2 separate regions of the Homo sapiens genome follow, and region 1 is linked to region 2. The links come from fine-mapping of genetic effects on gene expression. A gene starts in region 2. The other region holds a variant in brackets. All regions are shown on one strand. Distances are between the middles of the regions. Region 1 holds the start of LINC02597 (long intergenic non-protein coding RNA 2597). Region 2 holds the start of SLPI (secretory leukocyte peptidase inhibitor).

What was found. PIP is the estimated chance that this variant, and not a neighbour inherited with it, causes the effect. A credible set is the group of variants that fine-mapping cannot tell apart.
Region 1: its variant is the best candidate, but not a certain one, in a credible set for the expression of SLPI in whole blood (TOPMed, PIP 0.50).

What each region holds. Positions count from the first base shown.
Region 1 is chr20:45,175,633-45,181,010 of GRCh38, forward strand. It overlaps PI3 (peptidase inhibitor 3), which reads left to right. Exons shown (of 3, transcript NM_002638.4): 2 at 229-504; 3 at 738-912. The coding sequence ends at 503. It overlaps LINC02597 (long intergenic non-protein coding RNA 2597), which reads left to right and starts at 4,355. Exons shown (of 4, transcript NR_187568.1): 1 at 4,355-4,502. RefSeq lists an enhancer at 1-59. The variant T/C (reference allele first, on the strand shown) is at 3,199.
Region 2 is chr20:45,251,584-45,256,961 of GRCh38, forward strand. It overlaps SLPI (secretory leukocyte peptidase inhibitor), which reads right to left and starts at 2,981. Exons shown (of 4, transcript NM_003064.4): 1 at 2,876-2,981; 2 at 1,992-2,150; 3 at 1,419-1,568; 4 at 656-836. The coding sequence starts at 2,960. The coding sequence ends at 832. The region is part of intron 2 of LOC105372630 (a long non-coding RNA gene); the gene reads left to right.

The sequences.
Region 1 (5,378 bases), 76 kb before region 2:
GGAAGGGGGAAGAAACAAATACTCAAGGGAACTCTGGTCCAGTAGACCACCCCAAAAAAGGAAGAGCCTTCCAAGAGTGTAGCTCCCAGAGGTGTACCTTCCCTACTCAGGCCATGGTTTGAGGATGCTGCAGTAAGCAGTGGATGGACCCAGACCCAGAGGAAAGACATGGCAGCTGAAGCAGAGGCTTACTGGGTATAAATGTGGGCTCGTTTCTTCTTTTAACAGTTCCTGTTAAAGGTCAAGACACTGTCAAAGGCCGTGTTCCATTCAATGGACAAGATCCCGTTAAAGGACAAGTTTCAGTTAAAGGTCAAGATAAAGTCAAAGCGCAAGAGCCAGTCAAAGGTCCAGTCTCCACTAAGCCTGGCTCCTGCCCCATTATCTTGATCCGGTGCGCCATGTTGAATCCCCCTAACCGCTGCTTGAAAGATACTGACTGCCCAGGAATCAAGAAGTGCTGTGAAGGCTCTTGCGGGATGGCCTGTTTCGTTCCCCAGTGAGGTGAGCACTAGCTGGAGAACGAGGAGACCCCTGAAGACACAAAAGAAGGCTGAGCGGTGGGGAAGCATCCCAGGTTGGTGGGAGGGAGGTTGTGGGAGGTGACAGAAAGACTGGGAGACTGAGGGGTCTGAGAGGCTATAACCAGAGTGCCTAGAAGGATGATCTGTCTTCCTCACTGCCTCTGAGTGCTTTGATGTGCTGACTCTCACCTCTGATACTCTTCTCTTCCACAGAGGGAGCCGGTCCTTGCTGCACCTGTGCCGTCCCCAGAGCTACAGGCCCCATCTGGTCCTAAGTCCCTGCTGCCCTTCCCCTTCCCACACTGTCCATTCTTCCTCCCATTCAGGATGCCCACGGCTGGAGCTGCCTCTCTCATCCACTTTCCAATAAAGAGTTCCTTCTGCTCCACTTGTTTCTGGTTCCTATGACTTCTGGGCTCCTGGATGCTTTGGGGAAATGGATGTAGAATTGGGACTTCTTCTCTCCAGTGAAGAGGGGAAACGGTCCCATGGTGAAAGAGAGCAGGGCGGGGGGAGGAAACAGGAGGCACATTGCTAGGGCTTCATATTACAAATCCAATAATCAGCCCCAGTGCTGCCAGCTCCTTTTCACCAGGAAATGGAAATATGGAAATCTTGCCTTTGGCCAAGGACCAGGAAAAACACAAAACACAAAAAATAAATAAACATTACATAAACCATAAGCAGGTCTTTTTTTTCCAATCCACCATCAGTCCTGACCTGGCTACTGTCGGCCTTACCAGTGTGACCAGCCAACCCTTATGGCTGCAACTACAGCTCCCCACTTCCTTCTCATTAATGTTTCCCAGGAATCTATATCTTTTCAACACCACATAGAAAGGATGATGTTACAGATGCTGCGAAACTCCTGCTCTTTAGAATTTCACTGGTTTATGCCTGAGATTCCTCCATGAAGTAGCATTCCTTTAGGTTAAGCAATATTCTCTTCCAGATTTCTGTTTTAAGATGTGAATGAGGAGGCAAGATACACTAAGTCCTTCATACTATGGTGTCAGAGGTTTGGGTGAATAGCATTCTCTGGAGACATACATGTTGGGGGCAGGGCAGACTTGAGTAGTGGAGAAAGGGGCAGGAATATGAGCAACCTCATGGCTCTCCTGTTGACCCACTCGTCCCACTGCGATTGCACAAGGAAACTCTCAGAGAAGGCCACAGCCCCCAGGAGGGGAGCAGCCTGGGTGAAGGGGAATAAGCACAGGCTTGACAGTCAGGTGATCTCAGCACTGGCTTTGCCTCCCCACGTATTGGGTGACCTCTGGCAAATGTATGTCCCCCTTCCAGGCCTCAGAGGTCTATTTCAGTTGAGGGGGTAAGGTATAATTATTCTGCAAAGGAAGGTCTAATCCTGCCACTCTGGGATATGAAACAGCTCTTCTTTGTGTATTGGGTTCTTGCTCTGAGATGACATGGGGAGCAGAGGCTTGGGGTGAGACAATGTGGATCCCTGCACCACTTTGCCCCATCCACGAGCATCTGAGCCATGATTTTTCCCTATTGTTCAGAGGCTAGTCCGAACAACTGTAGGGCTTTGACACTAGGGTGTCTTGGAGTACAGGTGACAGCAGTACCCAAACTTCTGGCTTGACAAATACAAAATACATCATTGGAGGAAATAATGGTTTCTGTTTTTTAATATTTACTCTATTTCCTATACCTAGTAGATTACATGTATTGTCACTTATTTTTCATAAGTCCCTTTCAGATGGCCATTATACATATTTTATTTTCTAATTTTGTAAAAAGATTGAAGCTAAGAGAGATTAAGTAACCATTAAAAGCCACAAGGTTAGTAAGTGATAGTAAATGATATTTTTATTATATGCTAGCAACAATCAGTTAGACATGCTGCATTTTCTATTATTAATATCAACAAAATCACACCATTGCTATAAATAAACAAGAGAGAGGCAGAGCTTTAGAAGAGAAATCTATGTAACTTTTCAGAGGCATATAAAAATGCTTGAATATACACATACTCACAATACATGAATATGCACATATCACAATACATGAAGACTATGTGGTGAAGATGTCACTATTTACTCAATATTTAATATTTATTTAATTTATCCCTAAGGTGTATTATACCCAAAATCCATTTTTAATATGGTGTGGTTATGGAGGTTAAGGGAACTTGAAACCATACTTAAGTTTATGGGGAAGCATAAATTCTTGTGAATAGGCGTAGATGTTTACAAATGAAGATTAACCCTAGGGCTCTGGAACCTCCTAGACTTAAAAAAAAGTTTTGCAAAGTAACAATAATCAATATGTTGTTTTTATTAGAAGAATAGTCAGGTTGAGAAATCAATAGAAAACAAAAGAAAACCCAGAATCAGGCCTCATTATATCTAATTCAGGTAAAGATCAATGTCAAGTTCCAAAACAATGAAGAAAACTTGAATTTTTTAAGAAACAAGATTCAGACGGTAGGTTCACTATTTGCAAAAACAAAAGAACTAACTCTGGTCTGAATTCAGGCAAAGATTAAGCCACTGAGAGAGAAAAATTGAAAGGTTCCAAAAAGACACTTTCTTTTCGCTCAGGAAGCAGGCCAGGATGACAGTCCATGCCTAGCAAGGTAGCTGAGCAACTCAAGATCTCACAGAGACCAGTGGTTTCTTCCATCCAGGATTTGCTGTGGAACAGAGAC[T/C]GTAATTCCTTTCATGTTCAGTCAGGCAGGGACACATCTCCCAAGAAGACCCTGCCATTTGGAATAGTCCTCTGACTGCAGTAGGAGAGGGTGGAGCTGATACTGGGCCCCTCAGGATCTGCTGTGGCACAGTGGCTGGAGATCCCGATCTCATTGGCTTAGAAGGAGTGCACATCTTCCAGCAAGTTCCTGCGGAGACGTAATAGTTTCCTGATTCCAGCAGAAGGAGCTGAAGCTGGGAATGGCCCCACCTTGGGATCTGCTGTGGGATGGAGGCTGGAGAGTCCATCTTGTTGGCCAAGACAAGTACATATCTCCCTGCAAGTCTCAGCACCGAAAGGATAGTTCAATTACAGCAGGAAGTGTCAGAGCTGAGACTGGATCCCATCTCGACCTGCTGTGCAACAGAGGTTGGCAAGCCTGTCAGGGAGGCTTAGGATCTTAGGCTATGAGATATGTGTGAGTCTCCCTCTGGGTTGTTGTGTGAGCAGCTCTGAGCTGGGACCTCAGCTGATGGGGGCTGGAGCTGAATCACAAGGCAACTTTCAGATTCACTGCCCAGTCAGTGAGCAGAAGGGCCTTTCTGCCAAAGCCCTAGTGTATGTGATTCATTCTGGACCCCACAGCAGATGGGTTTGATTGCAGGCTCAAGGCCAAATGTAACCAAACCCCTGAATGGGCCATTTCTGGGATTGAACTCTGGAGCCAGCTCAGTGGATCAGCCACGTGGGTGTTGGTCTGCACTCTCAATATGACCCTCCAAGGTCTTGGGCTCCACCAGAGTTTCACAAACTTCCCCCTGAATCCAGATCCAGAGGCTCCCACAGAGAGACTTTGGACTGTGGATGAGTGTAGAATTCTTGTCATTCTGGTGGGACATGAGCAGGTGCCTTCTATTTCACCATCTTGGTTATGTCATTCCTTCCTCAGCAGTTTTTTTGGTCGATTTTGCAAAGCTTTAAGTTTTACAGTGGGGCTGGAAATAGCAGGAGAGTGTGAGTTCCAGCCCTGGGATTTGTTGTTTGCTCCCTTTTCACTGACAGGTATTTTGTATTTTTGGCATTCTTTGTTTTCAAGTTATGTTGAGGATGTGGTTTTGTTTAGAAATTTCTTGGTGGTGGTGTTATTTTATACCTCTTGGGGTGGAGATTGTGGAAGTTACTTATTCTTCCTCTTCTGCCTTCTATTGTCTTCAACTACCCCAAAAAAATCTCCTGGAAACTACTCTCTGAAAGAAGTTGGAGAAAAATTATTAATGCACTTGAAGAAGATCAAGAAAAAAGAAAGCGTGAGTAATGTTTTGGGTGAGTTTGAAAGAAGCTATTTTTCTTGCTTCCATTTCATTGCTTCCCTCTGCAATAATTCCGGGTGTGATCCATGCATTGGATGTGTCCTCTAGACTCAAACCAGATTTCAAAAGCAGATATGGGGTACCAGTTCTCCTAACTTCCCAAGCAATGAGAGGTGCTGTTACTAGGGAAGACAGCCTTGTCCAAGGAGTGCTGGAACCAGACAAGGGCTTGGAGACCCAAGGCCTCAAAGAGAGATACAAGGCCCCAACATGTTTCACTTTGCTGTCCCTGCATGGCCTCCCTAGAGATATTGACACCTGATTAACAAATCTTGAATGGCATAAAGGACAACAAAATGACTGTGGGGAGATGTCATTTCCCTCCTTACTTTATCACGATTGCACAGACCCCTGAAGGGAGAAATGCATTTCCTAATTTCACTCAGTAAGTCAAACCCAGAAAAGAACTGGTTCTCTGATTCCCAGACATGGGTTCGTTGTACAATTGTCTGAAAATAGCTGACTTGATCAAATTGTTTCAAATGTAATTTCTATAATTCCAATTGATGCCTCAGTATTTGTCTCCTAATACTTGGAGTCTTTCATTGTTTTCCAATTGTTTAGAATTTCAAAGGAAATTATTAATTAATAGAAATAAGGAATTCACAGCATGATGAGGGCCCAATTTGGGAGATGTGACTTTGGACCAAGTATCTTTTTTTTTTTTTTTGCGACATCTAAGCTTGGTCCTGCCCACCTAGGAGGCTGTGTAACTGTGCAGAGAAGGGAGTCTTTCTACCCACGTTAACTTATCCAGCTTCAAGTCCCTTCCAGGTACCCTCTGTCCTCCGATTCCCTTCTGGAATTCAGGAACAGGTAGTACTATGTC
Region 2 (5,378 bases):
GAATAACCCTTGCTGGAGGTGAGAAAAGTATGTAGCAGAATGGTCCAGTGAGGTTTGGGGCATTCCAAGTCTTTCAAAATAATCGAGAGTGGGCACTGACGTAACATGGTTAGTCTTTTTGAGGACTCCATTTGCTGTGAGTTGCAGATAATCTTAATTTTTCTGAGTGTCCAGAGAGTGTTGGTTGGATTAGACAACAGACAGACCTACAACATATCAAGTGTGAAAACCAATATATATATCGTAACACATACAGAGGTGAACACAGGAATCTGCCCCAACAGTTCTGTATGGCTTTAGATGAAAACCCCCTGGATTAAAATAGCTTAACTGTTGGCAGGATCTCTTATGCATAAACTCGTCTCAGGAAAGTTTTTCACCTGCAGTTGACAATCCTGCCAGAGGCAGTAAAATTGAGGTTTCTGATTCTTCATGTTATTGTACATCCCTAATCCCATTGAAATTTAGGAGATAAAATCACTTGTCCCAAATCACAGAGTCAGCACTTTCACACTCATGATATAAATTCAAGTTCCCCCAGTCCCTAAGCCTCTTCCTCCCACTACGTATTCATAGGAAGGAGGCCTCATATCTAGATCTTCCCTCACAGCTTCCCACCCCACTCATACCCCCAACGAATCACAGAAGCAGGATGTGCAAAGAGAAATAGGCTCGTTTATTTATTCATTGATCAACTGGCACTTCTTGAAAGCCTGCTGTGTGCCAAGCCTTTCCCCAAAGGAGGATATCAGTGGTGGAGCCAAGTCTCAGGGTGGAAAGGACCTGGACCACACAGAGCAGGACTCCAGAGCCTCCTCCATATGGCAGGAATCAAGCTGTGAGAGAAAATCAGATAAGAGCTTCAGCATAGAAACCAGCCAAATCATATCCACATCCTTCCTCCTGCCCAAGGATCCTTCTGAGATAGAGAAAATAGCAAGATAGCGCTATAGTTGAGAGAGACTTAGTGTCAGGAGACAAGTCTCATTTTCACCGTAAAACTCTAAACTCAAAGCATTGAACTAGATAATCCTCAAACTCCACTGATCCTTTGTGATTTCACCTCAGAAAACATGATGGAAACAACCTGAATAATAAATTCTTAGTGCACATAGTGCTTTGCAGAGCACTTTCAATCTCATTATGTACATTTTACCGATAAAGAAACTGAGACTCAGAAAGACACTTGCCCAGGACCCCCACCCAGAGACACTAGAATAGAATCAAAGCCACAGGCGATCCTATGGAAATCCTGGCCCTGAGACCTGGAGAACAGTTCTCTTGAAGGACAAGGGAGTCAGACAGAGGCTGTGCTTGGAGTAGGGTTCAGGAGTCCCCCTGCCCATATGCCTGGGCCTCCAGAGGGTTGAGGCTGAGAGGGCTGGAGGGAGCTCAGTGTGCCCTCATCCCCTGCTTACCTTTCACAGGGGAAACGCAGGATTTCCCACACATGCCCATGCAACACTTCAAGTCACGCTTGCACTGGCCATCCATCTCACAGAAATTGGGGGGGTTAAGCATCAAACATTGGCCATAAGTCACTGGGCACTTCCCAGGCTTCCTCCTTGCTGGGTGAGAGTGAGGCTACCGGTCAGAGGCCTTGTACTTTATACAACCCCTCCCATCCCCACTTTTTAGAGTGAGCCCCTGCTCCAGCTTCAGCAGGGGGGATCATCCCCTCCCCACCTCTATCACCACCACCTTCTCCCTAAGGCGGCCCCCAAACATAGCACCTGGCTCTCCTAGAACTTCAGGCCCCCCATTGATGCAGGTGGCCAGCCACCCAGTGCTGACTAGGTGGGAGGCTTCCAACTACCTGGCTATCTAAATGCCCGCTGCTTCACCAGCTGCTGGCTACCTTCCTGCTTAGGGCAGTGTGACTCACTGACGGATTGACAAGGAGGCCTGGCAGGACCCATCACCCAGTTCCATCCCTCTAATGCTGTGTCCCCAGGCTCACTCCTCTCTACCCAGTTCCCCGACCTGCTTACTTGGGTTTGGGGTGTCAACAGGATCCAGGCATTTGATGCCACAAGTGTCAGGACAACATCTCTTCTTCCCTGGACACTGCCAGTCACTCTGGCACTCAGGTTTCTTGTATCTAAGGCACTGGGCAGATTTCTTAGGAGGACAGACTCCAGCTTTGAAGGCTTTTGAAGAGAAAGTCAAGAGGTCAGGAGGAGGCTGGGTACTGAGGACCCATCATGCCTCCTGAACAAAGCACCACTTTTGAGGGGGAGAGACCCTTACCTCAGTAGCTGTCCACAAAGCCCAAAGGGTCATGCCTGCCTGATCTCCAGGTGTATTGATGGGCTTGATTAAATTAGACAAATGGACAGGGGACGTTTCACACCCAAGAAAAGGGCAGCAGGCTTCTAGTCAAGACCTCCCACCCAAGAGCAAAACAAGGCTACACAAAGGCAGAGAGGAAGGCTGGGAGTGATGGAGATGGAGAGAGGTAAACAAAGATAAATAGAACCAGTGTGAGAGAAGTTGAGAGCTAAAGCCCAAGGCAGAAGCACAGAGACAAAATAGCAGAAGCAAAGACACAAGGAAGCAGAGTCAGAAACTAATGATTTGAGAGTCGCAGACAGGTGAAGAAGAAGGCGGAGTATGAGAGAGAGAGAGAGAGAGAGAGAGAGAGAGAGAGAGTGGGACCTGGGCTGACAGCATGGCTGCATAGAGGAAGCATTTCCAGAAGCTCAAACTGTCACACAAACCTTGGAGCTCAGCCAGACATGTATTCCACCCTCAGGGAGGTCTCCCGAAACTAAGCTGAGGGATCAGAGCCTACAGAAGGGGACACACCCACACCACAAGGAGACCCCACCTCTGACCCTGCAGCCCAGATTAGACCAGAGTGACTCCAACTTACACTTTCCAGAGCCTTCCACAGCCCAAGGTGCCAGAGTTCCCAGGGCAAGCAGCACCAGGAAGGGGAAGAGGCCGCTGGACTTCATGGTGAAGGCAGGAGTGACTCTGATGGCCAATGCCAAACCTCACTATTTATTCTTTCACCAGTGGGTGTGGCCCCACCAGAATTCTTTCGGCCTCTCCCAGCTACTATTGCATAAGCAGGAAACGTAGCCAGAGACCAGAAATCCTGACACCAAGGAGATTGTTTATCTTTCCTATGCCAGGTAAGGCTATGAGGCCAACACAGCAACTATCAGAAAAGAAAGGGAAGAGATTGGCCTGGGAAGTTGGTTGATTAAAGAGGCCATCTCAGTGTCCATCTGAGCCCTAAACATCACAAGATCCCAGGCCATTAGCCTTATAGGTGGAGAGAGGGAAGAAGTGGTCAATTGCAAAGGTGCTACCCGGACCTGGAACTAAAACCAGACACAGACTCCCTGCTGAGACTTTGTGCAATACATTCTATTCTCACATTGCTAATTCTGATTCTCACATTACTGGACTCTCAGGCATTGTGAAACTCTGCTGATTACTCAATGCAGTTTCTTTCTCAAAAGTTCAGCTCGTTCAACCAACTGATACTTAGTTCCCTGAAATATTTACACCGTTATATCCCCAGTGCCTGTTCTGTGCCTGACACAGGAAAAGCACTCACAAATGAAAGCTGAAGAAGAGCTCCGCTCTCCACAAATCTCTCTGGAGCTCAGTTGTCTCAGCTGTGAAATGAAATGATACTAACAAGTCAGCCCTTCTCAGAGGGTTATGAAATTAAGGGCATGAAGGGACTCTGAATGAAAAGAACAAATGAATAGTATCCCTTCCCACTAAAGAGAATTGAAATGAATCTGAGATAAAGGGGGAAAGCAGCTCATCAGTCACTGTAATCTACATTTAGCTGTGAGATAATTTGAGATCTTAGAGGATTGCTTCCTAAAATTCCCCAAAATCCCTTACAGATCTCACATGACAGCAAAAAATTAAACCCATTCTATTTGCTACCCAGTCTGCATAGGTTGCTTCTAATTATAAAGAGAGCGACCATTATCTCTAAAATTCAGCCCATAGCTGAGTGTAGGGTCGCACACTTGCTGTCTCAGCTGCCCAGGAGGCTGAGGTGTATGGATTCCTTGAGAGTAGGAGTTTGAGACCAGCCCTGGCCACATATTGAGACCCCATCTCTACAAAAAAATGTAAAAAATTAGCCAGGCATGATGACGTACGTATGCCTGTAGTCCCAGCTACTTGGGAGGCTGAGCCAGGAGGATCGCTTTAGCCCAGGAGTTTGAGGCTGCAGTGAGCCATGATTGTGCCACTGCATTCCAGCTTGGGGGACAGAGCGATACCCTGTCTTAAAAAAATAAAATAAAATAAAATTCAACCAAAGCTCATCTAGCTACAAACTCCAAGCTCTTGACTCATTATCTTCATGCTTGGAATTCTCCCATTCATTCCTAAGGTGAAGGTTTGTGGAACTTTCCACAGACATGAAAGACCCACTCATTATCAAGTAGCGATGGCCCCACATGAAGTATTTAAGTATTCCACAACCAAACAGGCAACTGGCAGCAGATCCCTTTATACAAAAGTCACTCCATGGTTTGAATTTTGGTGGATCAGAAGACTTGGACATAATCAATCATCAGTCAAATTTTGGTGGAAAAAGAAAAGGAAGAAAATTAATATGCACAAGGTAACTACTATGAGCCAGGTGCATTCACTCTTAGTTGGAGTACTTAGTAGGGTAGGTAAGAGAGAAATGGAGGCTATGATTTCCACCAATGGGTAATGACACTCTCAGGTCAAGATTTTTGTTCTCACTTCCACCACCCAGGGGATAATTTGATTTCTCTCACAGAGTTCCTGTTCTCTCTCTCTCTCTCTCTCTCTGTTTGTTCCTATTTTCCTCAGTGCCACACTCAAGAAATTATCTGGAGTTTTCTAAATATTTATTTCTTAAAGAATGAAAAGGGGCTGGGCACGGTGGCTTATGCCTGTAATCCTAGCACTTTGGGAAACCAAGGTGGGCGGATCACTTGAGGTCAGGAGTTCAAGAGCAGCCTGGCCAACATGGTGAAACCCTATCTCCACTAAAAATACAAAAATTAGCCAGGCAGTGTGGCACACACCTGTAATCCCAGCTACTCAGGAGGCTGAGGCAGGAGAATCACTTGAACCCTGGAGGTAGAGGTTGCAGTGAGCTGAGATTGTACCATTGCATTCTAGCCTAGGCAACAAACTGAGACTCCGTCTCAAAAAAAAAAAAAATTAAAAGGAAAATGCTACAGCTTAAGTTTTTTTTAAATCTGTGATTGACTGATTGCTCAATCTGTGATTGACTGATTAGAGCCAGCTCCTTTCTCATCAGAAAAGAGCCCTGTGCCCAATTAGCAATGTCTTCCATGGGTGTCATAAGAAGATAATAGTATATAATCATTATTATCTTTGACATAATTGGTTCTAAA